Linked DNA regions of Homo sapiens. The protein of the gene in region 2 interacts with the protein of the main gene of each other region in a biochemical or structural test. Each region holds a gene or a part of one and is shown on either strand. Other genes may lie near its edges. The genes, in order: PSMD9 and SLC45A4.

Evidence for each region.
Region 1: the proteins of SLC45A4 (region 2) and PSMD9 form a complex in vitro, tested with the Homo sapiens proteins (one study listed by IntAct).

What each region holds. Positions count from the first base shown.
Region 1 is NC_000012.12:121,880,917-121,897,107, reverse strand, and holds the start of PSMD9 (26S proteasome non-ATPase regulatory subunit 9), read right to left. Parts: upstream 8,319-16,191; 5' UTR 8,252-8,318; coding exon 8,114-8,251; intron 2,370-8,113; coding exon 2,267-2,369; intron 1-2,266. UniProt on the Homo sapiens protein: Acts as a chaperone during the assembly of the 26S proteasome, specifically of the base subcomplex of the PA700/19S regulatory complex (RC).
Region 2 is NC_000008.11:141,301,500-141,317,416, reverse strand, and holds the start of SLC45A4 (solute carrier family 45 member 4), read left to right. Parts: upstream 1-9,128; 5' UTR 9,129-9,321; intron 9,322-9,524; exon of another isoform or gene 9,525-10,277; intron 10,278-11,465; exon of another isoform or gene 11,466-11,552; intron 11,553-15,905; exon of another isoform or gene 15,906-15,917. UniProt on the Homo sapiens protein: Proton-associated sucrose transporter. May be able to transport also glucose and fructose.

The DNA.
Region 1 (16,191 bases), on a different chromosome or scaffold from region 2:
AGCATTTTTCCTTCTAGAGGATTTCAGAGAAAAGTGAAATCTTGGTTACACCCAGCCTGAGTCATTCACTCATATGTGTATTTTGCATATATACACGCATGTGTATATTTTACATACACATGTATGTGTGTATATATTTACATGTATGTGTAGATATATACACATGTATGTGTATATATGCTGTTAACAACACGGGAGATTACATACAGAAGCCAAAGGACCTATGCATTATTTTCCAATTTTTTTTTCTTTTCTTTTTTTTTTTTTTTTTGAGACAGAGTTTCACTCTTGTTGCCCAGGCTGGAGTGCAATGGCACAATCTCGGCTCACGGCAACCTCCGCCTCCTGGGTTCAAGTGATTCTCCTGCCTCAACCTCCTGAGTAGCTGGGATTACAGGTTCGTGCCACCATGCCCAGCTAATTTTGTATTTTTAGTAGAGACAGGGTTTCTCCATGTTGGTCAGGCTGGTCTCGAACTCCCGACCTCAGGTGATCTGCCCACCTCGGCCTCCCAGTGTGCTGGGATTACAGGCGTGAGCCACCGCACCCAGCCATTATTTTCCAATTTTTATGTAAATCTATAACTGTTCTTTAAAAAGGGCTGTTTTGAGAATAGATTTTCTTTCTTTTTTTTGAGACAGAGTTTTGTTTGCTCTGTCGCCCAGGGTGGAGTGCAGTGGTGTAATCTCGGCTCTTTGCAACCTCTGCCTCCTGGGTTCAAGTGATTCTCCTGTCTCAGCCTCCCAAGTAGCTGGAATTACAGGCATGTGCCACCACATCCAGTTAATTTTTCTATTTTTAGTACAGACAGGATTTTGCCATGTTGGTCAGGCTAGACTCAAACTCCTGACCTCAGGTGATCTGCCCGCCTTGGCTTCCCAAAGTGCTGGGATTACAGGCATGAGCCACCGCACCCGGCCGAGAACAGATTTTTCAAAAAAAGACCAATAAGGAATTGCTCAAACAGATTTTTTTTTTTTTTTTGAGACGGTCTCTTGCTCTGTCACTCGGGAGGTGGAAGTTGCAGTGAGCCAAGATCGTGCCACTGCACTCCAACCTGGGTGACAGAGCGAGACTCCGTCTCAAAAAATAAATAAATAAATAAGATGTGATGCAGATGGAATCAAGATTCAAACAGATTAAAGAGGAGTTAGTAAGTGAAAAATGTGGAGGATAAATGCTAATAGGACTCTGTGGTGGAGACGGTTGCCTACCTATGGCTGAGTGGATAATGGCCCCCAACACATCCACATCCTAGCCCCTAGAAGCTGGGAATATGCCACCTTACATGGCAAAAGAGGCTCTGCAGATGTGATTAAGGACCTTAAGATTCGGACATGATCCTGGATTATCCAGGTGGGCCTGGTGTCATCACAGAGGTCTTTATAGGTGAAAGAGGGAGGCAGGAGAGTGAGAGAAAGAGATGTTATGACAGAATCAGAGGGAGGGAAATGCGACTGCTGGCTGTGTAGATGGACGAAGCCATGAGCCAAGGACGGTGGGCAGCCTTTGGAAACCAGAAAAGACCAGGAACAGGTTCTCCCCTAGATCCTCCAGAAGGAGCCAGCCCTGCCAACACCTTGATTTTAGTCCAGTGAGACCCATCTGGACTTCTTATCTCCAGCTACTAAGTCTGTGGTCATTTGTTATGGCAGAAACAGAAACAAATATACTATCCAATCTGTACTCTCTGCTAGCTCTTTAATTAAAAACAAATCACGTCATTTGTTATGGCAGAAACAGAAAACAAATATACTATCCAATCTGTACTCTCTGCTAGCTCTTTAATTAAAAACAATCAGCACCTTGGAAGGCCAAGGCAGGAGGACCACTTGAGTCCAGGAGTTCAAGACTCACCTGGGCCACTTAGTGAGACTCGTCTCTACTAAAAAAAATTAGCCAGGCACAGCGACACATGCCTATAGTCCCAGCTACTTGGGAGGCTGAGGCAGAAGGAGCACTTGGAGCCTGGGGGGTTGAGACTGCAGTGAGTCATGTTAGCACCACTGCACTCCAGCCTGGAAGACAGAGCAAGACCCTGACTCAAAAAAAAAAGAGAGAGAGAGAGAGAGAGAAAATGAAACCAGAAATATAGAACCTTAGAGTCTAGCCCATTCCCTTGGTTCTCAGTCCTTGGATGGGGACAAGACAATCCCATCAAGGCAGAAGAGAAGGCAGTAGATAATACAGATAGTTGGTTTTATTTGTATGCCTTTAACACCTTCCCACCACAAGGTGGGGAAAGTCTTCTAAGAGGGCCACTCACATATGATGTTGTGCCTGGCGGTGCGGACTTGGTACAGGTCCACGTCTGACCGGGGGTAGCCCTCACAGTCCACCAGCGGCTCGTTCATCCCAATGCCTTTTTGCTGGAGGAAAGAAACGTGGTTAAAAGGTGCTCATGGGTGTAATGTCCCCAGGATGTCTTTCCCCAGACCCTTCTCCTCTGAAGTCATAATAAAGGTGACAGTAATGAAAACTGCCACATACTGATCACTTACACCAGGGGCTCTACTCATGCCCTCACAACTACCCTGGGGTGGGCACTGTGTTTTTCATTTTTTATTTTTAACGACGCAAGTAATGCATGAATCCATTCTTTTTTGAAGTTAAAACAGTGCCGATAAAACCAAAGACTCCTTTGAGCATCATCCCCAAGGCCAGCCTCTTCCTCCACTCCTTCACACCCTCCTTCCCACAGGTGGCTGACACCTGGCTGCTGGCCCTGGAAGCTAGAGGGGAGTGAAAAGCCCAGACAGCACCCAGCTGTGGCAGGGCTTTGATTCTTCTGAAAATAAAAAGATCTGAAGAAGGAAACTGATAGCACCAGCTGCCTCCGGGGAGAAGAACTGGGTGGCTAGGTGACAGGGCAGGGAGAGAGACAGTCCATTTTATACCCCTCTGTAGGTTTTGAATTTTGCCTATGGGAATGTATTCTTTATTCAAAACAACACTTTTTTTTTTTTTAACATGAGTCAGAGGAGAGTACACAAAAGCAGTGAAACCAGTCACATGGTTCAGGGGAGGGGCTTTGCAATTGGTTAGACTTTAATTTGAATCTCAACTCTGCCATGTACAAGCTGGGCATCCTTAGCTGAGACCTTCTCCTCTCTAAGCCTCAGCTTCCTCAATTATAAAATGGGAATAGGAGCACTCGCCTCCCTCCCTACCTGCTGCAAGAACTAACGAGCTGACCTGCAGAGTACTTAGCACATGCCACGCGCATACACAGCATAGTGGGTTGAAGAGCGGCCCCCAAAAACAGATAACCACGAGCTAACCCCCAGAACCTGTAAATATGACTTTATTTGAAAAAGAGTCTTTGTAGATGTAATTATGTTAAGGATCTCGAGATAAGCTCATCTGGTGGCTGGTGTCCTCATAAAAGAAAGGCAGAGGTAGGTGTGGGACAGACACAGGAGGAAGGCCACATGAAGATGCAGGCAGAGGTTCAAGTGACACAGCTGTAGGCCAAGGACCGCCAGCAGTCACCAGAGGCCAGGAGAAAGGCTTGGGAGCTTCTCTCTCAGAGCCTGCAGAAGGAGCCAACCCTGCTGACACCTTGATTTCAGACTTCTGGCCTCCAGAGCTGGGACAAAGTAAATTCCTGTTTTAAGTCACCAACTCTGTGGTGTTAAGGTGGCCTCAGAAAACGACTACGCGCAGAAGTCATAAATAGTGGCTGTAAGGATTAGTCAGTCCAGGGACAAGCTGCCAGTGTACACAGGCACTGAGAAGAGGGATTCCATTCATTTTGCTCCCTTTCTCTCTGGAAGCCTCCGGGTTACACCCAAACCTACTGTCCACTGCGCAGGGAGATAGTTCTCCACACTCCCCTAACACAGGACTCGCCGTGACACTGCAGAAATGCGCCAGGGGCTAAAAACCTGTATCTGCTCCTGCCTTCCCACAGTGGTTAAGGGTTGACCAGCCTTTGAGAATCAATATCACATTGGATAATGCTTCTCAAAGGATGGGATCCATAACACTAGCAGCTCACACACACGGCATTAAATAACCCTGAATCAAAAATACATATTCCTCTCCCAATTCTCTACAATCCTGCAATTGTCAAGGCAAAAGTGTCCATTTGGTGCTGGTCTCTGCAACACCCCAGTTACTTGCTATCTCTAGTACCCTCTGTTTTTATAACAGTTTTATTGAGATATAATTCAGATACCATATAACTGACCCATGTAAAGTGTAAAAGGTAATGGCTTTTGTGTTTGTATTGGTTTGAGACAAGATCTTCTGTTGCCCAGGATCGGGTGCAGTGGTGTGTTCATAGCTCACTGCCGCCTTAAACTCCTGGGTTCAAGCGATCTGTCTCAGCCTCCTAAGTAGCTGGGACCACAGGCACATGTCATCACACCTGGCTAATTTTTAATTTTTAATTTTTTTTTTTTAAAGACAGAGTCTCGCTCTGTTGCCCAGGCTAGAGTACAGTGGCGAGATCTTGGCTCACTGCAAGCTCCGCCTCCTGGGTTCAGGCCCTTCTCCTGCCTCAGCCTCCCGAGTAGCTGGGACTACAGGCGTCTGCCACCACACCCGGCTAATTTTTTTGTATTTTTAGTAGAGACGGGGTTTCACCGTGTTAACCAGGATGGTCTCGATCTCCTGACCTCGTGATCTGCCAGCCTCGGCCTCCCAAAGTGCTGGGATTACAGGCATGAGCCACCATGCCCGGCCTTTAATTTTGAATTTTTTGTAAAGATAGGCTCTTACTGTGTTGCCCAGGCTAGTCTCAAACCCCTGGCCTCAAGTGATCCTCCTGCCTCAGACTCCCAAAGTCCTGGGATTACAGGCATGAGCCACCACGCCTGGCCATTGACCATTTGTATTGACCATATTTTCTTTGGAGAAATGTTTATTCAGATCCTTTCCCTGTCTTCTAATTGGCTGTCTTTTTATTATTGAGTTGTAAGAGCTCTTATTATAGTCTAGATACTATCCTCTTATCAGAGAAATGATATGCAAATATTTTCTCCCATTCTGGAGCTTATCTTTTCATTTTACTATGCCCTTTGAAACACAGTTTTAAAGTTGAAGTCCAACTTATCATTTTTTCTTTTGTAGCTTGTGTTTTTGGTGCCATATCTAAAAAGGCTTTGCCTAATCCAAGGTCATGAAGATTTACTCCTATGCTTTATTATACGAGATTTATAGTTTTAGCTGTCCACTTCTTTTTTTTTTTTTTTTTTTTTTTGAGATGGAATCTCTGTCACCCAGGCTGGAGTGTCGTGGTGCAGTCTTGGTTCACTGCAACCTCCGCCTCCCAGGTTCAAGTGATTCTCTTGCATCAGCCTCCCGGGTAGCTGGGATTATAGATGTGTACCACCACACCTGGCTAATTTTTGTATTTTTCGTTGAGACGGGGTTTCACCATGTTGGCCAGGCTGGTCTCGGACTCCTGACCTCAAGCGATCCACACACCTCGGCCTTCCAAAGTGCTGGGATTACAGACGTGAGCCACCATGCCCAGTCTTTTTTTTTTTTTTCTTTTTTCTTGAGACGGAGTCTCGCTCTGTCACCCAGGCTGAAGTGCAGTGGCGCAATCTTGGCTCACTGCAAGCTCCACATCCCGGGTTCAGGCCATTCTCCTGCCTCAGCCTCCAGAGTAGCTGGGACTACAGGCGCTGGCCACCACGTCCAGCTAATTTTTTGTATTTTTAGTAGAGACGGGGTTTCACTGTGTTAGCCAGGATGGTCTCGATCTCCTGACCTCGTGATCCGCCCGCCTCGGCCTCCCAAAGTGCTGGGATTAGAGGCATGAGCCACCGCACCCGGCCTTTTTTTTTTTTTTTTTTTTAAAGAGACAGCATCTCACTCTGTCACCCACAAGAGAGTGCAGTGGTGCAATTATAGCTCCCTGCAGCCTCAACATTCAGGGTTCAAGCAATCCTCCTGCCTCAGCCTCCCAAGTAGCTAGGACTACAGGCATGCACCACCACGCCCAACTAATTTTTAAAAAAATTTTTTGTAGGCCTGGCGCGGTGGCTCAAGCCTGTAATCCCAGCACTTTGGGAGGCCGAGGCGGGCGGATCACGAGGTCAGGAGATCGAGACCATCCTGGCCTCAGGTGATCCACCCACCTTGGCCTCCCAAAGTGCTGGGATTACAGGCGTGAGCCACCAGGCCCGGCCCAAACCCACTTTTTAAAAACAAATATAGAGCACGGTTTCAGGCTGAAAGCTTTCAGCAAGCAACAGCAGCTAGCCAGAAGCAACCAACATGCCGTATCAACATGCAAAGCATCTGACCTTATATTTAAGAGAAGAGATTATCATTTTCCATATGCAGCGGAGTTTTGAAATTTCCTTTTAAAATACATTTATGGGCAAGGCACTGTGGCTCATGCCTGTAACCCCAACACTTTGGGAGGCAGAGGCAGGAGGACTGCTTGAGCCCAGGAGTTTCAGACCAGTCTGAGCAAGCAACATAGTGAGACCCCATAGCTACAAAAAATACAAAAATTAGCTGGGCGTGGTGGCACGTACCTGCAGTCTCAGCTACTTGGGAGGCTGAGGTGGGAGGATTGCTTGACACCAGGAGATTGAGGCTGCAGTGAACCAAGATGGTGCCACTGAACTCCAGCCTGGGCAACAGAGCGAGACCCTGTCTCAATAATAATAATAACAATAATAATACATTTATATAAGATTAAAAGTAGATCTATTTAAATAAAAATATCAAAGGAATAACACAAGTGGTATATGCATATAGTATACTGCATGTGGTAGAAAGTAAACTAAAGTTTGAGAAATTGCTGGTAATTTGCTTGAAAGCACAGGTTCTGAATGTAACAGACCTGAAGTCTGAATCCCACTTTGAGCATATAGTCAGCACCCAGTAAAATGGTTCTCTGGCCCTCCGTATGAAACTTCATCTTATGGCCGGACGCGGTGGCTCACGCCTGTAATCCCAGCACTTGGGGAGGCCAAGGTGGGCGGATCACCTGAGGTCAGGAATCCAACACCGGCCTGACCAACATGGTGAAACCCTGCTTTTACTTAAAATAAAAAATTAGCCTGGCGTACTGGCGCTCGCCTGTAATCCCTACTACTCGGGAGGCTGAGGCAGGAGAATCACTTGAACCCAGGAGGCAGAGGCTGCAGTGAGCCGAGATTGAGCCACTGCACTCCAGCCTGGGTGACAAAGCAAGACTCCGTCTCAGACAAAAAAAAAAGAAACTTCATCTTACATCACCTAAAATGCATTCCATCCCACCCTACTTGGGCATAATTAATTGCATCTTCCTCTGCAAACTGATCTGTGATTTTACACTAGATGGCATAAGAAAACCTGCATCAGCTTTTGAGCCAGACCCACCACTGCCACTTCCGAACTACATGACCTTAGATAGGCGTTTGCCCCACTCTGGGCCTCAGTTTCCTCCTTATGCAATAAGGATGATGAGCCTTATTTGTAACTCAAAGTTCGGTCCTTAGACCACTAGCATCAGCATTGCTGGGAGTTTGCTACAAATGCAGAATCTGCTCCCTTGCCTCAAACAAAATCTGCATTTTAATAAGATCCCCAGGTAATTCATATACACACTGAAGTTTAAGAATTCACGATACAATCAGCAAATGCCGGGTGCAGTAGCTCACGCCTGTAATCCCAGCACTTTGAAAGGCCGAGGTGGAAGGATCGCTTGAGGCCATGAGTTCGATACCAACCTGGGCAACACAGTGAGACTCTGTCTTTACAAAAAGTACAAAATTAAGATAAGGCAGTCAGCGAGGCACATGACAGCTGTTTAATCACCAAGTAACACCTGTTTCCCCCTCCCTAAAATGGAAAGAGTAACAGCATCCACCTCAAAGGGTTGTTGCAAAGATTAAATTAACTCAACAATGCACAGCACTTAAACCAGCGCCTAGCACACAGCAGGGCTCCACAAACTCTTGCTGGATATCAATATGGCTAACTCTTCAGTTGCTAAAGTTCTTTGCCTGCCTTCTTGTGCCGACAGAGGCCGCACTTGCGGCGCCTTGGGCCTCCCAGGGAGATCCGTTGCGGAGCGCCCAAACTGAGGCCGCCCTGGCATCCCAGTACCCCAGGGACTCCGGGCCGGGTTAGGCGACTTGGGGCGCCCCGAACCCACACTCACGCTTTCCAGCACGTCATAGTTGGCCTTGATCTGCGCTTCTATCTCCTCCTTGCGCCGCATCAGCTCCTGGACGTCGCTGACAGTCACGACGCCGGCCTGCGAGGAGCCTCCGCTCTGCCTCGCTTCCTCGTCGGACATCGTGAACCCCGGGCCGCGACTCCAGAGACCCGGCTCCCGGGCTAGGGACGACGCCCCAGTCGACCGTAACTACGGCTCCGCCCATGCGCCAAAACACCACAGCCGTCCGCGAACGCGAGAACAGTCAAGGGGCGGGGCTTGGGATGGGGCTTAGGGCGGAGCTGGGTCACCGGAAGCCGCGCCCTGCCGGAACACGTGCGCCTGTGGTGACCCGGCAGGAGTAGCGTCGGAAGCAATGGATCCCCACGCAATTGCACACCAACGCTAGGGGATGATCTCGCCCCAGCTGACTCATTTTCTCATTCGTGCAGCAGACATTTATTGAGCGCCTACTGTATGGATGGATACTGTACGCCAGAGAACCGCTGCGTGGCGCTCCAATTCAGTTCTTCACATCCACACAGCCCTGGAGGATTTACAAAATACATTAAGGTTCCTTATCCCTCACTTTACAGATCCGATATGCCTGAGTACACACCCCGTATCTTGCCACTTAACGGCAATCTGTGTGACCCTAGGTCACTACTTGGCTTCTCTGGGCCTCAGTTTCCTCATCTGTAAAATGGGGCAGTAATTGATAGCAATCTATCTCATAGAGCTGTCCTTCTGCTAACAAATATTCATGGAATGATTCCTATGAGCCATATACTGTTGAAGGTGCTGGATGTTCCTGTTAAGGCCTCTAAAAATCGTAGTGATAATAATAACGGTAACAGTGTTTATTTATTGATACTTATAATGTGCCAGACGCTGTTCTAAATGCCTTACATATATTAATTCAACAACCTCATGAAGCTAGATTATTACATCCCAATTTGACAGCTGAGAAAACCGTCTCAATAACCAATTTACCCAACTAGCAAAATGTGAGGCCAAAATTCCAACCCAGCTTACCTAAACAATCAACTTTGATATCTGACCATGTGCCTCTAATATTTTGTCTTGAAAAGGGCTCAGCGGTCATCTGTGTAGTATTCAAACATGTTTGCCCTGAATCTAATCATTGGAAAACAGACATATCCAAAAGAAGGGACATACTTCAAAACAACTGGCCTGAAAACTTCAAAAAAAGTCAATGTTGTGAAATACACATGGGGAATAAGGGGTGGGGGACAGAGAAAGGAGGCGGATATGCAATTGCCTAGATTTAAGAACACTAAAGATGTGCATCAACTAAATGCAATGGGCCAGGTGTGGTGGCTCATGCCTATAATCCCAGCACTTTGGGAGGCTGTGGCAAGCAGATCATTTGAGGTCAGGAGTTTGAGACTAGCCTCGCCAACATGGTGAAACCCTGTCTCTACCAAAAATATAAAATATTAGCCGGGTGTGGTGGCACACACCTGTAATCCCAGGTACTCAGGAGGCTGAGGTCTCGAACCCCTGGCCTCAAGTGATCCAGCCCAGCTCGGCCTTTCAAAGTGCTGGGATTACAGGAGTGAGCTACCGCACCCCTCAAAAATAAACTAACATTTCTAACATTATCGAGAGAGAGAGAGAGAGAAATACAGGTGCAGTGGCTCATACCTGTAGTCCCATTATGCTGGGAGATCAAGGCAGGAGGATCCCTTAGGTCCAGGAGTTTGAGACTAGCCTGGGCAACATAGCAAGACCTCCATCTCTACAAAAAAAAAAAAATAATAATTAATTAGCAGAGGACCAGGTGTGGTGATTCACACCTGTAATCCCAGCACTTTGGGAGGCTGAGGTGGGTGGATCACTTGAGGTCAGGAGTTCAAGACCAGCCTGGCCAACATGGTGAAACACCGTCTCTACTAAAAATACAAAAGTTACCAAGGCACAGTGCCACACACTTGTAATCCCAGCTACCTGGGAGGCTGACGCAGGAGAATCGCTTGAACCGGGGAGGCAGAGGTTGCAATGAGCTGAGATCATGTCACTGCACTCCAGCCTGAGTGACCGAGTGAGACTCTGTCTCAAATAAATAAATAAATAATAAAGTTAAAAAGGGAGGAAGAGAGAAATAATGACTAAATGCAATACATGATCCTTACTTGAATTATTTAATGAGAAACAGCAGCTTTACAAGACTTATTGGGCCAACTGGTGAAATCTAAATATGAACTTTATATTAAATTATAGTATATCAGTGTTAAATTTCCTCAGTCAGATAATGGTGTTGCAATTATATGAGAGAATCACTTTTATCTTTATTGGAACGAGATAAATGCTCAATTATTTAGATGTGTAGTGTCATGATTTCTGCTACTAACTTGCAAGTGGTCCGAAGAAAGTGATACAAGGGGAGAAAGAGGCAAAATGTAACAATTAGCAAATCCACGTGAAGAGTATAAGCATGTTCAAGAAAACTGTTTTGTAAGCTGCTTATGGCTATAATCCTAGCATTTTGGGAGGCCAGGGCAGGTGGCTCACTGCCTGAGCGGCAGAGCAAGACTCCGTCTCAAAAAAAAAAAAAAAAAAAAAACTAGGCCAGGCGCGGTGGCTCACGCCTGTAATCCCAGCACTTTGGGAGGCCAAGCCAGGTGGATCATGAGGTTAGGAGATCGAGACCATCCTGGCTAACACGGTGAAACTCCATCTCTACTAAAAATACAAAAATTTAGCCGGGCATGGTGGCACGTGCCTGTAGTCCCAGCTACTCAGGAGGCTGAGGCAGGAGAATGGCATGAACCTGGGAGACAGAGCTTGCAGTGAGCAGAGATCGTGCCACTGCACTCCAGCCCGGGCGAGAGAGTGAGACCCCATCTCAAAAAAAAAAAAAAAAACTAAATGCAATATGTGGCCAGGTGCGGTGGCTTACGCCTGTTATCTCAGCATTTTGGGAGACCGAGGCGGCTGGATCACCTGAGGTCAGGAGTTCAAGACCAGCCTGGCCAACATGCTGAAACCTTGTCCCTACTAAAAATACAAAAATTATCCGGGCGTGGTGGCTCTGTTGCCCAGGCTGGAGTGCAGTGGCGAGATCTCGGCTCACTGCAACGTCCACCTCCCTGGTTCAAGCAATTCCCCTGCCTCCCGAGTAGCTGGGATTACAGGCGTATGCCACCATGCTCGGCTAATTTTTTTGTATTTTTAGTAGAGACAAGGTTTCACCATGTTGGCCAGACTGGTCTAGAACTCCTGACCTCAGGCAATCCACCCGCCTTAGCCTCCCAATGTGCTGGGATTACAGGCGTGAGCCACCGCACCTGGCCAAATTTCCTGATTTTTAAAAAAATTGTAATATCCTCCCACCCTTGATATCTGAAAATTTCCTGATTTTGATACTTTCACTGTGGTTTTGTAAGACAGTGCCCTTAGAAAAAGTACCCTGTAGTATTTAGGGTTAAGAGAGGCAATTTACTTTCAAATGGTTCAGAAAAGAATACAGATATAGGCCGGGCGTGGTGGCTCACACCTGTAATCCCAGCACTTTGGGACACCGAGGTGGGCGGATCACAAGGTCAAGAGATGGAGACCATCCTGGCCAACATGGTGAAACTCTGTCTCCACCAAAAATACAAAAATTAGCTGGACGTGGTGACTCATGCCTGTAGTCACAGCTACTCGGGAGATTGAGTCAGGAGGATCACTTGAATCCGGGAGGCAGAGGTTACAATGAGCCGAGATGGTGCTACTGCACTACAGCCTGGCGACAGAGCAAGACTTCATCTAAAAAAAAAAAAAATACAGATATATATGTAAGGCCGGGCATGGTGGCTCACGCCTGTAATCTCAGCACTTTGGGAGGCTGAGGGGGGTGGATCACTTGAGGTCAGGAGTTTGAGATTAGCCTGACCAACATGGTGAAACCCCGTCTCTACTAAAAATACAAAAATCAGCTGGGCGTGGTGGCAGGCACCTGTAATCCCAGCTACTCGGGAGACTGAGGCAGGAGAGAATCGCTTGAACCTGGGAGGTGGAGGTTGTAGTGAGCCGAGATCGTGCCACTGCACTCCAGCCTGGACCATATAGTGAGACTCCGTCTCAAGAAAAAGAAAGAGATATATATTTGTAGACAAGAGAGAGATAAAGTAAATACGGCAAAATGTTAATAATTGGTGACTCTGTAAATTATTTGTAAATGTAAATTATTTACATTTACAAAATGTAAATAATTGGTGAAACATATAAATGTTCTTTATAATATTTTTGGAACTTTTCTGTGAGTTTAAAACCACTTCAAGATAAAATTTTAAAACAAACTTTAAACAGAAAGAAGAAAAAAAGAGAAAAGGTAGAAAAATAAACTAACATTTCTAACATTGTCAAAAGAGAGAGAGAGAGAGATACAGGTGCAGTGGCTCATGTCTGTAGTCCTATATCTCTGGGAGATCAAGGCAGGAGGATCCCTTGAGTCCAGGAGTTTAAGACCAGCCTGGGCAATATAGCAAGACTTACGTCTCTACAAAAAAAAAAATTAATTAGCGGAGGACCAGGCATGATGGTTCACGCCCGTAATCCCGGCATTTTGGGTGGCCGAAGTGGGTGGATCACATAAGGTCAGGGGTTTGAGACCAGCCTGGCCAACATAGTAAAACCCCATCTCTAGTAAAAATACAAAAATCAGCCGGGCACAGCGGCACACACCTGTAATCCCAGCTACTTGGGAGGCTGAGGCCGGGGAATTGCTTGAGGCAGAGGTTGCAGTGAGCGGCGATCATGCCACTGCACTCCAGCCTGGGCGACAGAGCGAAACTCCGTCTCAAAAAAAAAAAAAAAAAGAGAGGAAAAGAGAAACGATGACTAAATGCAATACATGATCCTTACTTGAATTATTAATGAGAAACAGCGGCTTTAAAAGACTTACTGGGCCAATTGATGAAATCTAAATATGAACTTTATATTAAATTATAGTATATCAGTGTTAAGTTTCCTCAGTCAGATAATGATGTTGCAATTATGTGAAAGAAACTCTTTTTATGGTAAGGAGATAAATGCTCAAATATTTAGATGTGTAGCGTCATGGTTTCAGCTACTAACTTGCAAGTGGTTCAAAGAAAATGATACAAGGGGAGAAAGAGGCAAAATGTAACAATTAGCAAATCCACATGAAGAGTATATGCATGTTCAAGGAAACTTTTGTAGGCAGCTCATGGCTATAATCCTAGCACTTTGGGAGGCAGAAGTGGGAGGATCCCCTGATCCTAGGAATTTGAGACCAGCCTGAGCAACGTGGCAAGACCCAGTTTCTATCAAAAAAAAAAAAAAAAGAAAGAAGGAAAAGGAAAAGTTGGTTGTGTGGGGGAACTATCTTGCAGTTCTTCTGAGGTTTGAAATTTTTCCAAATAAAAAGGGTGAGGAGAAGATTCTTACCCATGCGGTCTGAAAAGAGAGCTGTTGTTAGGTTACTACATTATGAGCTTGTCAATATTGCTGTCATTATAATAAACCTCTATCCTGTGACTGCCTTCATAGCTCCCAAATCCACCCATCTCCTCCACCTCTACTCCTACCCCGCCACCTCTTCCTCCTGATTGGGCAGTCTTTGAACTGTCTCAGGTTGCGCACTTTAACCCAGTCTCCAAAGCAGCCAGAACAACCTTCCCAAGAGTGACATTGGCACGCTACTGCTTAATGGCTTCAGTGCCCTTCTCTTGGCCTTTAAGACTCCTGATCTCTGCTTGCCTTTAGACCACCTCCCATCCCTGTACCCCACCACACACACACACACACACACACACACACACACACACACACACACACACACACACAACTTATGCTCCAGCCATGCTGAACTTCTAACAGTTTCTGGCACGTTTTTTGCTCAGTCTCTCTTAGCACTGGGTCTTAGCACCTGCTCTTCCCACCCTGGAACACCATCTCAGGCCAGGCTGACTTGAACCTCTCCTTCAAGATCCAGCTCAAGGCTGGGTGAGGTGGCTCACACCTGTAATCCCAGCACTTTGGGAGGCCGAGGCGGGTGGCTCACTTGAGGTCGGTAGTTCAAGACCAGCCTGGCCAACATGGTGAAACCCCATCTCTACTAAAATAGATTAGTTGGGTTTGGTGGCAGGTGCCTGTAATCCCAGCTACTCAGGAGGCTGAGGCAGGAGAAGCTGGGAGGCAGAGGTTGCAGTGAGCTGAGATTACACCACTGTACTCCAGCCTGGGCAACAGAGCAAGACTCCCTCTCAAAAACAAAAAGAAAAAGATCCCTCTCAAAAACAAAAAGAAAAAGAAATACTACCTCCCTGGAAATCATTATGTGTCCCACCCCACAGCTGGGCTGTTTTCTGCACTTTTCACTTGGTATTGTAAATGCATGTTTACCTGTCTGTCCCATGCACTGGAGATTCTTAGAGAATGTGGACTGAGGCTTGTTTATCTTCAAATGTTGGACTGTTTGAGGATTGCAAGGGAACAGTCTGAGAGAGCTGTCTTTCCCCTTTCCAGTTGTTCTGTTTCATCTTCCCTGCAGTGGCCACAGACAGCCCAGCAAAACCTTTGTTTTAGAAAGCTGCCAAGATCTAGGAGAACTTCAGTTGCCTCTCTCAAGCTTTCACATCTTGCTCATCTTCATTTCAGAACGAGAGGTAGGCCAAGAGACAAACACATGGGAAATAGAGCCAGGGAACTAGAGATCCCTGGCGAGACCTGGTTGGTCAGAATTCATACTGCCTGACTTGAGGACCACCACACTTTCCATGTTTCACCTCACTCTGGCCCAGGAATCCTACAAACGACAAATCCTCCCCTCGTTTCCTGAATCTATAAAACAAGGGTCTGGACTCTGACAGCCATAAAGGTGGCAGGCTCGCTCATGAGTTGGCCCCCTAAAAGTTTTTAAGAATTGTAAATTAGTTGCTTAATCAGGCCAGCACAGTGGCTCATGCCTGTAATCCCAGCACTTTGAGAGGCCTAGGCGGGAGGATCACCTGAGGTCAGGAGTTCAAGACCAGCCTGGCGAACATGGTGAAACCCCATCTCTAATGAAAATACGAAAATTAGGTTGGGCGCGGTGGCTCACGCCTGTAATCCCAATAGTTTGGGAGGCTGAGGTGGGCGGATCATGAGGTCAGGAGATCAAGACCATCCTGGCCAACATGGTGAAACCCTGTCTCTATTAAAAATACAAAAAATTAGCTGAGCATGGTGGCACATGCCTATAGTCCCAGCTAGTTGGGAGGCTGAGGCAGGAGAATCGCTTGAACCCGGGAGGCGGAGTTTGCAACGAGCCAAGATCGCACCACTGCACTCCAGACTGGCGACAGAGCAAGACTCCATCTCAAAACAAAACAAACAAACAAACAAAAAAACAAAGTCATGGGAGCAGATAAGGATAATGAAGCCACCTGGGGCTGGTGAGCATGGGGTCTCTTACCCCACCCCTTAAGCCTAAAGGGGCAAGAGAAGGGAGGGTTTGGAAACCTAGAGAGAGTTGTAGTCACCCAACAGGAGTGTGGCCTTCAGTACAGGGACATAGCTGCTGCTAAAACAGCTGCTAAAACAACGTCTGGCAGGGAGGAAGCCAAGGAAGAGATACCCCCACTTGTCTCTCCTCTCCTTTCCTGCCAGGGTCTCAGGTTGGCTGAAGGTGATAAGGCTTGGGGCACAGAGAAGGGCAGGGAGGGAAGAGATTTGGAGGGGCTAAAGGAATATCCACCACAGTTGCCAATAATTAAGCATTTGGAAAAGTAAGATGCAGAGACCCACATAGTAAATCATCCTATTTTTATTCAGTAAAGTCAACTCCCCCATAGAATGGAAAAAGGGAAGCAGTTATACCTGTGAGGGTGTTAATATTTAGTACCTGGGCAGAGCGTGGAGCAGAGCAGAAAGTAATTTTTAAAAATAAGATACTGGGTTGTGCACGTTGGCTCACGCCTGTAATCCCAACACTGGGAGGCCAAGGTGGGCAGATCACCTGAGGTCAGGAGTTCGAGACCAGCCTGGCCAACATGGCGAAATCCTACTACTAAAAATACAAAAAATTAGCCTGGCGTGGTGGGACACACTTGTAGTCCCAGCTACTTGGG
Region 2 (15,917 bases):
AGCCACCATGCCCAGCCAAAACCACTATTTGTTAAGCGCCTGTGGGGTATTGTGTACCCACGCCTAGACCAGTGCCCAGCATGAATGGGGCCCCATTGAGGCTTTGCTGAGCCAACGAGGGCTGGCTTCACTCCCACATTTTCCCTGGCTTCTTCTCACTAGAGCCTTGGCAGTGAGGTACTAGCACCCCACTTCACAGGCGAGAAAACTGAGGCTTCAGGAGGCTTATGCAAGCTTTTACAGCCGCATCCTACTCCCAGCCCTCCAGTGATTCCGCCCTGCAGCTTCAGTGTTTACCAAGAATCCGGCCACGGCTCCTCCACTGCCAACACCCTGCCTGCAGCCATCAGCTCCCTGAATTGTCAAGAAGCTTCCCACGTCCTGTGCCCTCCAGCCACCCTCAGCAGCAGCCTGAGCCTTTTTAAAACATCGAGATCCCTGAGTCCCTCCTCTGCTCAGACCCTCCTGGGGTTCCCGTACCCCACTCGGGGGGGCTTTGCTGGCCACCTGCTATCCATAGCAACACCCTCCTTGCTCTGCCCTCTTTGTGTATTTAGTACCACCTGGTCTTCCACTATGTATTTATTGCTATGTCCTTGGATGTAACGCCCTTGAGAGCAGGGACTTTATCCGTTCTGCTTCACACTCCACGGGACCCTGACCACCTGTGCTTCTTCCAGAACGGGAGGATGCATGAATGAATGCATGCGTGCATGAACGCAGGAGTGTGTGAGCCCGTGGGTGAACAGGAAAGCATCAGAACCAGGATGCGCCTCATTTCCACTAGTTTCTCCAGGGTGTGCCGTTTCCTACAGGGCCTCCTCCTAGGGGAGGGCACATTCCTGCACCCACCTGTACCCTAGACAAGATGCAGCTGGGAGCCAGGCCAGTCACGCTCTCTCATTCACTCCTTTCTCGTCCGTTCCTTTGCAAGTTGTGAACTGTGTACCAGGGACCCAGGGACGGACAGGGTGGGCTAGAGCCCACCCACATAGTGCTCACAGTTGAGGGCAGAGGGTCGAAGGCAGCTGGTGCTGGAAGGGGGCTGGCTGGCAGGGCCAGGAGAACTGCAGCAAGGTGGCTGAGGGCAGCCCTACTGTGCCTGATCGTGGGGTAGGGGGTGTCTAACTCCCACTGAGAGATGAAGCTAACTCCTCTGCCCGTTCCCTCTCTTCCTTCAGGCCCTTCCTCAAAGTCCCCTTCAAGGGGGACTCTGCCTGCCCCCTTCCCCGCATTTCCACAGCAGCTATCGCTGGCCGGCTTACTGCATGTCACTTGCTTCCTTGCTCCTTGGCTGTCTCTCAGCTGGGATGCAGATTCCAGGAGGTGTGGCCTCCCTAGCATCTATGTCAGAGTGCCTGGAGCAGAGCAGGTGCTCAGTCAATGTTTAGTGAATGAGTGAATGAACGAATGAATGATTAGAAATCACATAGGCCAGGCTTTGGCACCCAGGTAGGTCTCAGTGAGTATTAACTACTGGTGCAGTGACACCCCAGGTGAGCTCTGGTCCTGCCCTCACCTTTTAGGCCCCCATCTGTAAGGGGAGACCAGAACTGACTCCACAGGGCTGCTCAGAGGCTCCAATGAGACTGTGGACAGGACAAGCACGTTGTAAAGTATAGGCGGTTCTTTAAATGATGATTCAGGACTTAAAGCCTAGGTGGGCCTTATTTTTGCTATGTGCTGGGGGAGGCAGGAATTATTGAGAGCTGGGGTGGTCTGGGAGGGTTTCCTGGAGGAGGACACATGGGACAGGCAGACCCAAGGGAAATGGTGGGCACTACCGGCAGGATGAGCAGTGTAAGCAAACGCAGGAAAAGGGAGAGCCAACCCAGAGGGCTTAGGAGGCTGCTGACTAAGCAGGGGCAGGGGTGGGAGTCCAGAGACGAAGCTGGGCTGAGGACCACGGCCTGGAGGGGATGTCTGGGAGGGAGGCTTACCCTGGGTTCCGCCCTGCCCTGGTGCCATCAGCAGGTGGGGCCTGCCGCAGGGGTCCTGGGTGGGGTGACCCCAGACATCACCTGCCTTTACCCTTCACTGTGAGAAGCCGTGCCAGATGCTCCACCCTGCTGGCCGCCCTGGGTGGCTGCCTCCCTGCTTCCTTTCCAGGTCACCCTGGTCATTTGGTTCATGGCTATGGCTCCAGTGCCAGCCCCTGTACTGGGCCCTGCCCCTCCTCCCCATCCTGACAGGTGGGCTAGAGATGCCAGCAGATGCAGCAACCACTCCACACTCTGACAGTCTAGGAGCCCCTGGCAGGCCCTGTGACCTTGTGGAAGGGGGCACGAGGACTCAGAGCCAGATGGCCTGGGTTCAAACCCTGGCACAGTCACTGACTCGATACGTGACCCTAGGCCAGCTACCTCCCCTCTCTGTGCCTCAGTTTCCTCTTCTAGCAGATGGGGAATCTAATGGCACCCAGCGCAGGGCTGCTGTCAACACGAGATTACTTTGATCAGGCGGGGGCCCAGCTGGCTTTGGAGCCCTGTGGTAACTGATCCGCATCATTATCTGGGCCCTGACCAGCCCAGCTGAACAAGCACTAGCCAGCCACTGCCCCACTAGGCTCTAGATCCAATTTCTCAGCCCCACCCCATATGCCCCACACACGGGCCTCAAGGAGCTCTTTAAGACCCCCATCTGGCCGCTCGAAGACGTCCCCAGGAAAGAGGTCAAGTGCTGAGGCCCTCAAACCTGGACAAAGTCGGTGTCTGATCGTGTTGACTTATTTTACAGGTTTCATTGTGGGATATAAGACAGCTACAGAGAAAGGCATCGCAGAGCTGCAAGCGTGCACATCCTGCTGCCGGGCGGGCGTGGAGCCTGTCCCAGCCCCTCACCCCTCTCGTGCTTCTGAAACCCGGCCTTTGCCCAGGGCGGGCCCATGTGGGGAAGGCCCTTCAGTGAAAACCTGCCTCAGTCTCTTCTGGGGAATCTTCAGGTTCTGCCCAGGCCTGGAGGGCCAGCGTCGTGCTGACGGCCACAGCCAGTCCTGGGCAGCTGCCCTTTCCTGGCACTGTGGTCACTGATGAGCTCTTCCTAGTCAATGACCTCCGCTGGGCCCTGCACTGTCATTTCCTCACATAATCCTCTCATACAGTCCTTTGTGCTAGAGAAACAAAGATTCTGTCCACCTCACTGATGAGGAAACTGAGGCTCAGGGAGGGGATGGGGCTCACCCAGGACACAGAAGCAGTGGAATGGCCTGGATTGCATTGAACTTCCAATGAGACACACCAGTATGGGGAGCCGTGTGGCCCCAGGTGTCCATGTGACCTGGGGTATGACCCCGAGTGGCTAAATCACTCCATCGTCAGGTAGCTGTGTGACTCCTAGCGATTGTGACCGTGGGCAATCGCATGGTTCAGGTAGCCATGAGACCCCAAGAAGCTCACGATCATAGGATGCCACATGGCCCCTTGGTGGCCATATGACACCGGGCAGCCATATGACCCCAGGAAGAGAAGCCGTGGGACCCCAGAAGCCCATTGCTCTGGAGCCAATTCAGGTACCTGGAGGTTCCGACCTGGATTCGTGTCCCGGCCCTGGGGCTGCTCTGAAAGCCCTTGGCTGCCCAGGACACTGGGCAGGCACATGGTCTTTAGGGTCTCGGGTCCCCTCCTGGGCAATTGAGATCCAAGACCTGCGGGTTGTGGACCTACTCACCTGCATCCCAGGGCTTTGGCCCCTACCCTCTGTGGAGCTCACACCCTCTTCATTTTGCCTTGGGGCTCACAGAGATTAGGTATTTTCTCCAAGGTCACACAGTAAGCTAGAACTCTGCTCCTGCGCTCTTAGCCTCACCTAAGCAGAGGCTGCTCCTGGGGAAGGGGCGGAGCAGGCGGAAGGACGCTGGCAGGGTGAGTAGACACAGCCTGAACATCAGCGCCCTAAGCACGAGAGCCAAGCGGGGCAGTGTCTTAGGAACACCTGGTGATACATGAGCGTGCTAATTGACATATTGGGGTTTTGTGAACGAGTTTGTTTAAAAACGTGTTTGTTGCTTTGAAAAGATAAAAGATTTGTGAAGGAGCACAGGAGGTGTCACTAAGGGACTGTCTGGCTGGGACACTGCTTCAGCTCATCCCCTCTCTTTCCTCCCTCTTCAGGGCCCACCTACTTGCCGCCCCCACCCCACCGCTGTGTAGGCTGTGGTCTCTGGAGAGAATCCTGTGCCTCCATTCTCTAAGGAAGCTGGGCAGGGGTTGAGGGCAGCTGGAGCACAGCAGGCCCTTGGTTAAAGGCGGGTTGTTGTTTGAATCATAGTAAAATTGGAGCCAGTTCAGGGAGGGCTTCCATATGTACCACCTCCCTCCCTTTCCTTTCAAACTGGGATCAATGGTTGTTGCTCTCGGACACTTCCTCATGGCAGGAGAGCACCAGGGACACTCCCAGAAGAGAAAATGGCAGATGCAAAGGTCTGGGGATGGGCTCAAAAGGGTGGCACGGACAGTCACCTGGTGTGACAGAGGAGAGAGCCAGGGGAGGGGGGACCTGCCAGGCCTGCCAGGAATGTGGAGCTCCTGGCGCCCGCGGGCTCTACTGGCACCCGCGGGCTCTACTGGCACCCGCATGCCTCACCAGCCCTCTAGCCTCCACCTCCGTGGGGGCTTCCTGCCCGGAAGCCCTCCTGCTTTTCCTAGGAAGAGAGGCTGCTCAGGCAAGTCACGCTACCTCTGAGCCTTGGTTTGTTCGTCTGTGCAATGGAAAGGCTGACAGAGGGCCAGGGAAGCTGAGGGCAGGGGCTGGAGAAGTCTGAGTGGCCTTCATTCCTTCTCCTTCTCTCCTGATTTACCTGTTGTGCGGAGCACCTTCTACCTCTCTCCCATGGCCCAGTGTGTTCTCCACAAGGTCCAAAGAGGGCAGTCTTGTCTTTTCAACCAAGGTAGGAGCTGTCCATACCAGGTCACCAGCTGGCCTCTGGCTCAGAGCAGGTCACAGCCTGTTTGTGGGATGTGGACGTTTTGCACCAAACAGGCTCTTTCCTCTTCATTTACGAGGCACAGAGGAGAGGAAGGGAATGATGCCCAGCAATAGTAAGATGGGTGTGTTCACGGACGTCATTCATTCATTCATTCATTCAATCAGTCAGCCTGTTCACCTAACACCTAACCAGATATGACCCAGGTATAAATCCCGGCTCTATCGCCTACCAGCTGTGCGGCTACAGGTACCAACAACCTGTGTCGCAGCTTCCTCCTCTGCAGGATGACACCCATCTCACAGGAAGGTGTGCACACATGAGCGCTGGGGATGAGAGGGGCCTGGCCCTGCTCCAAGGCATCCCCAGGTGAGGCACGGAGAAGACAAGGTTGGAACCTAAGCAGTGATGGAGGCACCACGCCCTGGACTCGTCCCAGCATCGGGGAGGTTGTCATGCTCACAAAGATGCAGGATTTGCCACAGCATTTGTGGGGCCCTTCTTAAAAGCTGTGAAGCATTTAAAGATGGCAACAGCAGAGCGCTAAGCCAAGCGTGGAGCTATTCTGAGCACTGGGTATGTGTGACTACACAGGTCACACACCCATGACAGCTAAGGGCCCAGGCACGCCTGCTTCAGAGCCAGGCCAGAGTCCGTGTCTTTCTGACCCCTGGGCAAGAGGGCTTCCCCGTATCAAGCTCTCTCCTCACAGGACTGGGGAGCCAGCCATTTAAGGAGGGGGTGGAGTGGGGCAAAGATGTGTGGGGGCCCTGAGGATTCCATTCCCCGGCTTCCATGGGCAGCTGGACAATGGGGCCACAGGCCACTGACACATATCACCCTTCTTGGTGGTGGCAGGTAATATAAGGCCCTGGCCGGGTAGGCTGGGAAGGAGTGCTGCAGGGTGGCCCTGCCACTGCCCTCTTGCATAGGCATGCACACGCACACATGCACACGCACACACACACACATGCACACACGCACATGCAAACATGCACACACATGCACACACGTATGCACACACACATATGCACACACGCATGCACACACACTTGTTGAGGTGCTTGCACAATGGGGATATATTTTTTCTTAACTTTACTCTGGTCTCTGTGTTTAACTCCAGGTTATAGAAGTAAATTAGTTGGGTTTCCACATCTCAGGCTTAGAAACTGCCTTCTAAGTTTCATTCACAAGAAACTTCATGCCTACACTTACATTCTTTTTTTTTTTTTTTGAGACAGGGTCTTGCTCTGTCATCCAGGCTGGAGCACAGTGGTGCAATCATAGCTCACTGTAGCTTTGAACTCCCAGGCTCAAGTGATCCTCCTGCCTCAGCCTTCTGAGGGCTGAGATTACAGGCATGTGCCACCACACCCAGCTAATTTTTGAATTCTTTGTAGAGATGGGGCCTAGCTATGTTGCTAGGCTGGTGCCTATACTTCTATACTTGCATTCAGTTACTCTTTTAGAGGCTTTTTTTTTTTTTTTTTTGAGATGGGGTCTCATTCTATTGCCCAGGCTGGAGCGCAGTGGTGCGATCTCAGCTTACTGCAACCTCTGCCTGCCAGGTTCAAGTGATTCTCCCGCCTCAGCCTCCCAAGTAGCTGGGCCCACAGATGCACACTGCCCCAATCAGCTAATTTTTGTATTTTTAATAGAGATGGGGTTTCGCCATGTTACCCAGGCTGGTCTAGAACTCTTGAGCTCAAGCAATCCACCCACCTCGGCCTCCCAAGGTGCTGGGATTACAGGCATGAGCCACCACCATGCCCAGCCCCAAGAAATACTTATGGAGCACCTACTACAAGGCTGATCCTAGACTGGGCTCCATGGCTACCATGGCTGGTACATACCCCACAATGCACTCCTTAAGAAGAGAGATGGGATCATGTTCCCAGCTCCAGTACTAGGACCCAGCAAAGCGTGTGGCACATAGTAGGCACACACTCAGTAGTTGGTTACTGCATGAATGACAATGAAGACAATTCAATCAATACCAGCAATTTGTGAATAAACAAAGTCTTTACCTGTTCTGTCCTCTTGATTGTATTGTCATTTTAAAAAGCATCATTTTGCTATTTTGTTTAAGCTTCAGGACAACTTGTGAACTAGGTACTATTAGAATGCTCACTTATAGAAGAGGACTCAGGGAGGTTAAGTAGGCGCCCAGGCTCACACAGTTGGCTCACAGCACACCTGGAATTGCCGCTGCCTCTATCCTTTGGCCATTGAAAGAAAAATCACCAGGGAAGCAGATGTACAGTTTGAGCACTCATGATGTGTCTGATGCTGCTTTGGACTGTCTACAGACCATTGATGTACTTACTAACCCTCTGTTGAGATACTGCATACACATGGAAAAACACACACGTCTTTTTTTTTTTTTAATAGAGATAGGGTCTTACCATGTTGCTCAGGCTGGTCTCAAACTCCTGGGCTCAAGCAATCCACCCGCTTTGGCCTTCCAAAGTGTTAGAATTACAGGCGTGAATCACCGTGCCCCACAGGCACATGCATCTTGACTGCACAGCTGGAAAAGTCATCATAAACTGAGCACACTGTAACCAGCACTCAGACCAAGACACAGAACACAGCCAGCCCCCAGACACGTCCTCTGTGCCCTGCTTCCTGGCTCTGGCACCCCTCCCTCCAAGGGTAACCACTATCCTGACTGCTACCCCCATATACACCTTCTACCACTTTATCCACATGGAAACAAATATGGCTTTTTATCCTCTGGCTTCTTTTCCTCAACATCATTTGTGAGAGTCATCCATGTTGTTGTGTGTAGTTGATTATTCACTGTCATTGCTGTCATTCCACTGTGTGAATATATCACAATTTATGTATCCATTTAACGGCTGATGAGCATTTCAGTAGTTTCCAGTTTGGGGCAATTATAAACACTGCTGCTATCAACAGAAACACAATGTTAGGTGTGTATCTAGGAGCAGAATTGCTGGGTAATCAAGGCCTTTCAAAAAGATTTTGAAAGTTGTACCACTTTGCATGTCCACCAACAGTGTCTGGCAGTTCCAGTTGCTCCATTTCCTTGTCAACACTTGATATGGTCAGATTTTCCCATTTCCGATGCTCTTGGAGGCTCTGCTCTGCACTTCACTTCTAAATTCCTTTAGCAACAGGTGAGATGGATCTTACGATTTCTATTTTACAGATGAGGACGCCAAGGTTCTGAGAAATGAAGTAATTCCTCCAAAGCAACTTAAACCCTGGCAAGGGTGCAGGGCTGCGACGTTAACAGGGTTGGCCTCAGCCCATCACATCTGTCTGTTAAAGCCGCCTCCCCAGACCTTGTCTTGATGGGGTTTCCCAGCAGTCCTGCCCTAGGGATTGTGGCCCTTCTACACGTGGGGAGAGACGGATCAGTGTCCCTGGCCAGGGCCAAGCCTGAGAGGGAGGCCCAGCCTCCAGGAAGCTCCGGGTCGGGTCTTCGTCCTGCCCCGCTCTCCAGGTTGGAGAGGGGACCCGCAGAGCGCGGGGCGTTGGGGGAGTTGGGGACGGGGGCGTGGTCCGGGACCAGGTAGGAGGTCTTCGGAGGGTGGCAGGGAGGGGAAAACAGGAGAGTTTTCTCCTGCAGCGGAGGAGGGGCTGCAGCACCTGGATGGGGCCCATGTCGCCGCGCCACGGGCAGGGGCGGAGGGGGCGGGAGGGTGCTTGCCAAGGGGCTGGGCTGCCGGGGGCCGGGGCCTCGTGGCTAGCCGGACCCCTCTGCGACAGAGTGGCGAGAGGAGCGGGGAGAGAAGGTGGGGACAGGCGGGGGCCACCTCCTGCGGCTGCAGAGAGGGATGGGGTGGATTGCGGGCCAGCGCTTTAGGGGAGAGAGGGCGGACGCTCGGTGCGGAGGGGCCGGGGCCGGGGCCGGGGCCGGGGGCGTAGCGGGAGGAGGGCGGGGGCGGGGCTGGATTATGGCTGGGGGCGGGGCCATGGCGAGACGGGGGCGGGAGCCACGGTGCGCGCGGGGGCGGGGCAGGGGCGCGGCGGGGGCGGGGCGGCCGTTCGGGGGCGGGGTGGGCGGCAGCGGAGGCCAATGAGCGCGCGCGGCGCAGACCCCGCCCCCCGAATCCCCGTCCCGCGGCGGCGGGTGCTGCATAGTCATGAGGCGCAGGGGCCGGCGCTGCGTCAGCGGAAGCGGCGCGGAGCGGCTGTTTCCGACCCGATAAAGCGGCGTTGTCTCCGCGCGCCGGCCGCAGCCTCGCAGCGCTCTCTCCGCGCCCGCGTCGCTGACTGACCGCCCGGCCGGCCGGCCGAGGGAGCAGCCCCCGCCCGGACCCGCAGCCGCCTCCCGACCCCGGTGCGCCCGGGGCTCCGCGCCCCCGTAGCCCCTGCCCGGCCCGGCCCGGCCGCCCCGCCGCCCCCGCGGCCCCGGCCGGAGGAGACAGGTGAGTGGCCTGCCGCCCGCAGCCGCCTGCCCCGCCGCCCCCTGCACCTCGCACCTGGGCGCCGGGCACCTGCAGCCTCCCCACCCCCACCTCCCGCACAGCCTCGGCCTCCAGGTCGGGTCCGCGCCGCAGCCCCAGCCCCGCACCTTCTCCGGGGGAGGGGACGTGCCCCCACCCGGCTTGCGCTGGCTCCTCAGGGCCCCCCAATTCCTTCCCGCCTCCTCTTTCCGGATTGCACCTGCCCTGGTCCCCAGCCCTGCAGCCTCCCTCATTCCCCCCACCCCGGCCCCCACCCCGGGGCGCGCGCCTTCATTTGGACCCGGCCCGCTTTCGCACCCATCAGTCCTCCCCGCCCCCAGTTCCTCGGTTTCTCTACCCAGAGAGGAGCCTGGCGCCTCTAACTCCTGGTCCTGACCCTGTCTTGTCCTTCTAACCCCTGCCTGCTATCTCTAACTTATGAGAATTCAACCAGCGATACACCACTCGCGAAGTGGCCCCCTCTCCCCTCTGTCTGGACCGGTCCTCCCAACCGAACACACTCCCTTCTTCCCCTTCTTCCCCTTCCCTTCTTCCCCTCCTTTCCCTCTGCCCAGTGCACACACGACCCTGGCAGCACTGCTAGCCAGTGTCCCCCGCCTCGGACCCCCAGCCTGCACCGCCAGACTGTGGCTCTGCCCCGGTCTCATCGGCACTGCGCTCCCTTGTGTCCCTTTGAAGATACCTTGATTTCCTGAGACCGACCTTGTCCCTGGAGGAAAGAGGCCAGGGCATCAGTTCATCCGGGCCCAGATTCCCTGCTCTGTAGAAGTCCCCGCACCTTCTGCGTCTCAGCACCCGCTGCCCCTTTCCCCTTTGCGCTTAACCCGTTCCTCCCCCAGGTATCCTGCTCTGGATTGGAGCACTTCCAGCAGCGGCTTTTCCAGCGGAGGCGGATCCACACGGGGCCCAGCCTCCTGGTTAGCTATTCAGAATGATTCTAGAAGGCGGGGGCTAGGGAGGGCTGGGAAGGGCCGCTTGACCTCCTAAGGAGCCTGAGGTGTTTGTGTCTCTCCAGTGCGGGTCACTGATGGAGTGTGGCTTCAGGTTCACAGACCTAGCCACTGACCCCCATCTGATACCTCAGCTGACTCCAGCAAAACAGGGCTTGTCGTTTTTATTACTGTTTTGGGGGCTGTCTTTTCCAGTCTATGACCCGGAGCGAGGAGGGTTTACCAGATGAGTGATTGAACTAATTGTTGTGGGGTCAGATGATTCTTGTGGGCTGGTAGATTCTGAATCGAAGCCCATTTCTGCTGGGGAAAAGCCACTGCATCTGCCCAGCATTACTGAGAGCGCCCTGCGCTTCCATTCCCCAGACGGTCTCATCCTTCCTGTGTCATTGGCAGACAGGTAGAATGTGGTAGGAATCTTATCCTTCTGTTATTTTGTGCTGGCTTTAGGAAAAAATAAGAAAACAAAAAGCTGGAGTATTGGTGTACAGGTTAGGGAGTGTAACACATGGGGATCAGAGCAGGTAACACACACTGTCCTTAAAAGAAATGTATAGTGTCCTCACTTTTCTGCTAGGTTTGAATTATTGTTAAAAGAACGAGCAGAGATTATTTAAATGCTTGGGAGAGGTTTTGCAGAAGCCACTTGATGAGAAGAGGCAGCCCTGCAGGTTCCGGGTGGAGGAGACTCAGGCGCAGTAAAGAACTCATGTGTTTCTAGAGAGAGGCTGGGGAACTAGGTCGTCTTACACATCAAGGATTTCACACCCGTTCAGGCTAATTGTTTTTGTGGCAGTGGCTGTAAAGGAAAGAAGCAAATCGTTTGAAATGTGTTTGAAATACACACTGGGTATTTAAAGGTGTGTTTTTTTGGCCCAGGTGTTCACAGGGCGGGGAGTGGGGAGGCTGCCCAGGGCCACCTCCCGGGCCTCGTGGGGGGAGTGGCCTGCTGCCCTGCCGAGATGCGTGCTGCAGCTTTGGCCCTTGTCGCATCGTGAAAGCAGATCAGAGATTGGACTGGGTGAGCTCCAAGGTGTGTGTCTTGCAGCTTGTAACACCCTCTAACTTTGCTTATTGGAGGGGGGTGGGGGAGGGGCGGAGCAAGCCTGTAAACCGGATTCTGCCTCCTTTCCGTGAGCTCTGAGATCCCGCCCCAGCCCGCCCCGCAGATCTGCAGGGAAGGAGAGGGCTGCGGCAGCGGCAGCTCCCCACTTTCCCGATGGAGGAAAGGAGCCGAGGAAGGTATTTCAGCCAATCTTGAGGTTGCTTGGTGGTGAATGGATTGTATCTGTGTTGTCAGGAGAGAGGTGGGGAGGACAGAGGAGTGCAGCGCAGGGGTTCGGGCTGTGATTGTCGTTCTGACCGTGGTGCATCCCAGTGCCCTCTCCCGCTCTTCCCGAGGGTCCTGACGCCCAGTGGCTGGCTGGGGTGGTTTGTGACCAACAGCCTTGTGGCCTGGCACCGAGTGAGGGTGACTGACAAGCACTGTAGGTGGCAGACAACCCCAAATTGCCAGTGCCCTTCTTGGGAACACCCCTGGCAGAGTCGTGTCTGTAATTTGTGGAGGCAGAATATGCTGGAAGCCGCGTTCCTGCTAATGATGGGTGAGGACTGTTCCTCGCTGGCCTCCTAGGTTCCCCAGGTTTTCATCACTGCGTGATTATGCTGACGAAGGCGCACTTAGTGAAACACCATCAGAAGGGTTGTCTCCACCTGAGCCAGGAAACAGATTTGACCAGAGGGAGCAAACCTCCCAGCCGAAGAGCAGCCTTGTAGAAAGGAAGGGGTGAGAGGACCCCAAAAGCAGGCGTCTGCAGTGGGTTTTCATGCAGAGGACCTGAGCGGCTGCACCTCCCCCACCGGCTCCTAGACAAGGTCCCCTTGTTTAGATTAGCTTAATTACCCCACCAAAATCAATGAACAAGGATCTTTTTAAATGTGAAACTTTCAAAATGTGCTTCTAGTGGCCTTTTCCCCCGAGTATCAAATGCTAAGCTTTTGTGAAATCAGGCACTTTCAGAGGACCGGGAGACCTCTTTAATGTTCGTGGAAATGAATCTTCTCTACCCTGAATCAGGAGAGGGCCTGCCGAAAGGGAAGCTTAACAGGTCATATTGTCATTTTCAACCCCTTGCCATTTGGGTGGAGGTGACAGGAGAAACAGCATAGTGTTTACGAAGTGGCCTCCTTGGCAAGTGACTTTTGGAGGAGGCATTTTAAGAAGATTAAAAACATCCACAGACTTAGAGGGCAGCCGCATAACCCACTTAGTGTTTCATATCCCTGATAGAGTGGCCCTTTGAGAGCCGTGGATGGGTTGCTGTTGTTCCCACCTCAGACGACGTGGGTGTTATTGCCCCAGGAAGACGGGACACTTGGTAGGGGTCATTTGTTGAGTGCGACTGGTTAGATTGCGGGAAATAGCACAAAACCCTGATGATGGAGAGAAGGGCTCTGAGTTCTCTTTGGCTCAGCTGCTGTGTAGCTTGGGGACTTCAGGTGAGAGGGAGAGGAAGTTCTCTCTCTCCCCCCCTTTTTTTTTTTTTTTTTGAGACAGTCTTACTCTGTCACCCAGGCTGGAGTGCAGTGGTGCGATCTTGGTTCACTGCAGCATCCACCTCCCAGGTTCAAGCGATTCTTTTGCCTCCGCCTCCCGAATAGCTAGGACTACAGGTGCACATCACCATGCCCAGATAATTTTTGTATTTTTAGTAGAAATGGGGTTTCACCATGTTGGCCAGGCTGGTCTTGAACTCCTGACCTCAAGTGATCTGCCTGCCTGGGCCTCCCGAAGTGCTGGCATTATAGTCTCTCTCCTTTGCGTGTGTGTGTGTGTGTATTTAAGAGTCAGGGGGTCTCACTGTGTTGCCCAAGCAGGTCTTGAACCCCTAGGCTCAAGTGATCCTCCTGCCCCAGCTTCCCAAGTAGCTGCTGGGTTATAGGTTCATACTACCGCAGCTGGTGGGATTTCTCTTAAGTTAGAGGGGCTGGGCTGTAGCTGCATTATTTTGAGGGTCATCCCAAGGCCCACCTTCCTGTCTAGTGAGGGCTCCAGAACACAAGTTCACTCTCAGAGTCTGTCGGGAGCCGCGGGGGGGAATAGTGCTGGGCATTTTGTCCCCAGTGCAGGAATAAGGGTGCCAGCCAGTCCAGAGTGGGATCCTGAGGCAGCTGAAGGGATTTGCGTAACCTTTCAAGTCATTGAGCTTGGCCATCTCACCCTCCCACCTCTACTGGGCCCAGGCCCCAGTGAGGGAGGTATTGTTCAGACCTGGGTCTCGGTACTTTCATCCTCCTAAACCTGTTGAAGGATTTTGCTGGCAGTGAGAGGAAACTGCATTCCTGAACTCTGGCCCAGAGGTGCTTAATTTGCTGCATTGAAAAGTCCCTTCCAACCTGGGGTTCTGTTATGCTACTTGCTCTGAGTTTTTGTAGTTTGCCCCAAGGTTTCTCTTGGGGTTCTGCCTTGAAATCCTGGAGCCATCTGAATTGACTGGCAACCAAATTTTTCCTATTTCAAAGAAAGGAAAATCTTGAGTGAAAAATGCATAGCAAACCCTTAGAATAGATAATAAAGAGGGATCAACACAGTGCTTACCTGGTCAGGTGTGGTGGTCATTATACTTTTATATATGACCCTTATTGCACAATTTTAGGAAATCACTCAGGCTGGGCACAGAGGCTCGTTCCTGCAATCCCAGCACTCTTGGAGGCTGAGGCAGGAGGATCGCTTGAGTCCAGGAGTTCCAGGCCAGCCTGAGCAACACGGCAAAACCCCACCTGTCCAAAAAAAAAAAAAAAACAAAAATTAGCCGGGCACGATGGCACGTGCCTATAGTCCCAGCACTTTAGGCGGCTGAGGCGGGCAGATTGCCTGAGCCCAGGAGTTTGAGACCAGCATGGACAACATGGCAAAACCCTGTCTCTATAAATACAAAAAAATTAGCCGGATGCGGTGTCTCACATCAGTGGTCCCAACTACTCGAGAGGCTGAGGCGGGAGGATTGCTGGAGCTCAGGAGGTCCAGGCTGCAGTGAGGGGAGATCACACCCACACTGCACTCCAGCTGGGGCAACAGAGTGAGACCCTGTCTCAAAAAAAAAAAAAAAAAAAGACATTGTAAGGCCAGAAAACAAGAAAATAAGAAAAAACAGAAAATAAGTTCCTTATCACCAACAATGTAGTCATCATTTTAGGGAAATACATTTATTCAAGAGCATGGTTTTTGGTTTGGTGTATATGGGAAGGGAATATTTTGTAAGTTTTTTGAGGGGAGGGGTTTGACATCTCCACGCTGGAGATGAAATCGCATATTAAGAGCATGTTAGACACGAGGCGAGGGGGACTGCCTGAGTATCGTAGAGGCAGCTTTTTCACTGTCAGTGATGAATGAATTAGGAATGTTTTAGAGTTACATTGCTGTCAAGCAAAGGCCTGAAAACATTTTTGCTTATGTGTTCTGTAAAATAACTTTACGCCTGCCGCGGTGGCTCATGCCTGTAATCCTAGCTCTTTGGGAGGCCAAGGTGAGTGGATCACCTGACGTCAGGAGTTCGAGACCAGCCTGGCCAACATGGCAAAACCATCTCTACTAAAAATACAAAAATTAGCCAAGTGTGGTGGTGCACGCCTATAATCCCAGCTACTTAGGAGGCTAAAGCACAAGAATGGCTTGAACCTGGGGGCAGGGGTGGGGTCGGGGGGAGGGAGGGCAGCGGGGATGGGGGTGGTGGTGGTGGTGGTGGTGATGGTGAGTGGCGTGGAGGTTGCAGTGAGCCAAGATTGCGCCACTTCACTCCAGCCTGAGCGAAAGAGCAAGCCTCTGTCTCCATCTAAAAAACAAAAAAAACTTTGAAAAACTATAGACACATTTTTAAGTTGATGTTTAAATTTTTGGTCCTAATTTGAAACAACTGCAAAAGATGCAATTTCTAGTATAATGTTGGCATTTAAAAGTAACCATTGTATTGCTTTTTAAAAAGTATCCAATGTTAAATATCCTAATGATACCTACCATCAGTCACCCTTTTAAAAAATGAACAAATTGTTCTTAACAGTCTTGACAAGGCAGTTTTTTTCTTTGTGAACTTGTATGTTTGCTCCATTTGAAAGTCTTTTCATCCCTCATTCTTTTTTTTCTTTTTTGAGACAGTGTTTCCCTCTGTCACCCAGGCTGGAGTGCAGTGGTGGGATCAGGGCTCGCTACAGCCTTGACCACCTAGGTCTATGCAATTCTCTCTCTCCAGCCTCCTGAGTAGCTGGGACCACAGGTGTATGCTATCATGCCCAGCTAGTTTTTATTTTTATTTTTTGCAGAGATGGGGTCTCACTGAGTTGCCCAGGATTTTTTTTTTTTTTTTTTTTTTTTTTTTGAGATAGGGTCTCATTCTGTCCCCCAGGCTGGAGTCCAGTGGTGAGATCATGGCTCACTGCAGCCTCGACCTCCCCGGCTCAAGTGATCCTCCCACCTCCACCCTCCAGGTAGCTGGGCTTATGCCCAGCTAATTTTTCTTTGTATTTTTGGCAGAGACAGAGTTTCACCATGTTGCCCAGGCCGGTCATGAACTCCTGGCCTCAAGCGACCCTCCCTCCTGCCTCAGGCTCCCA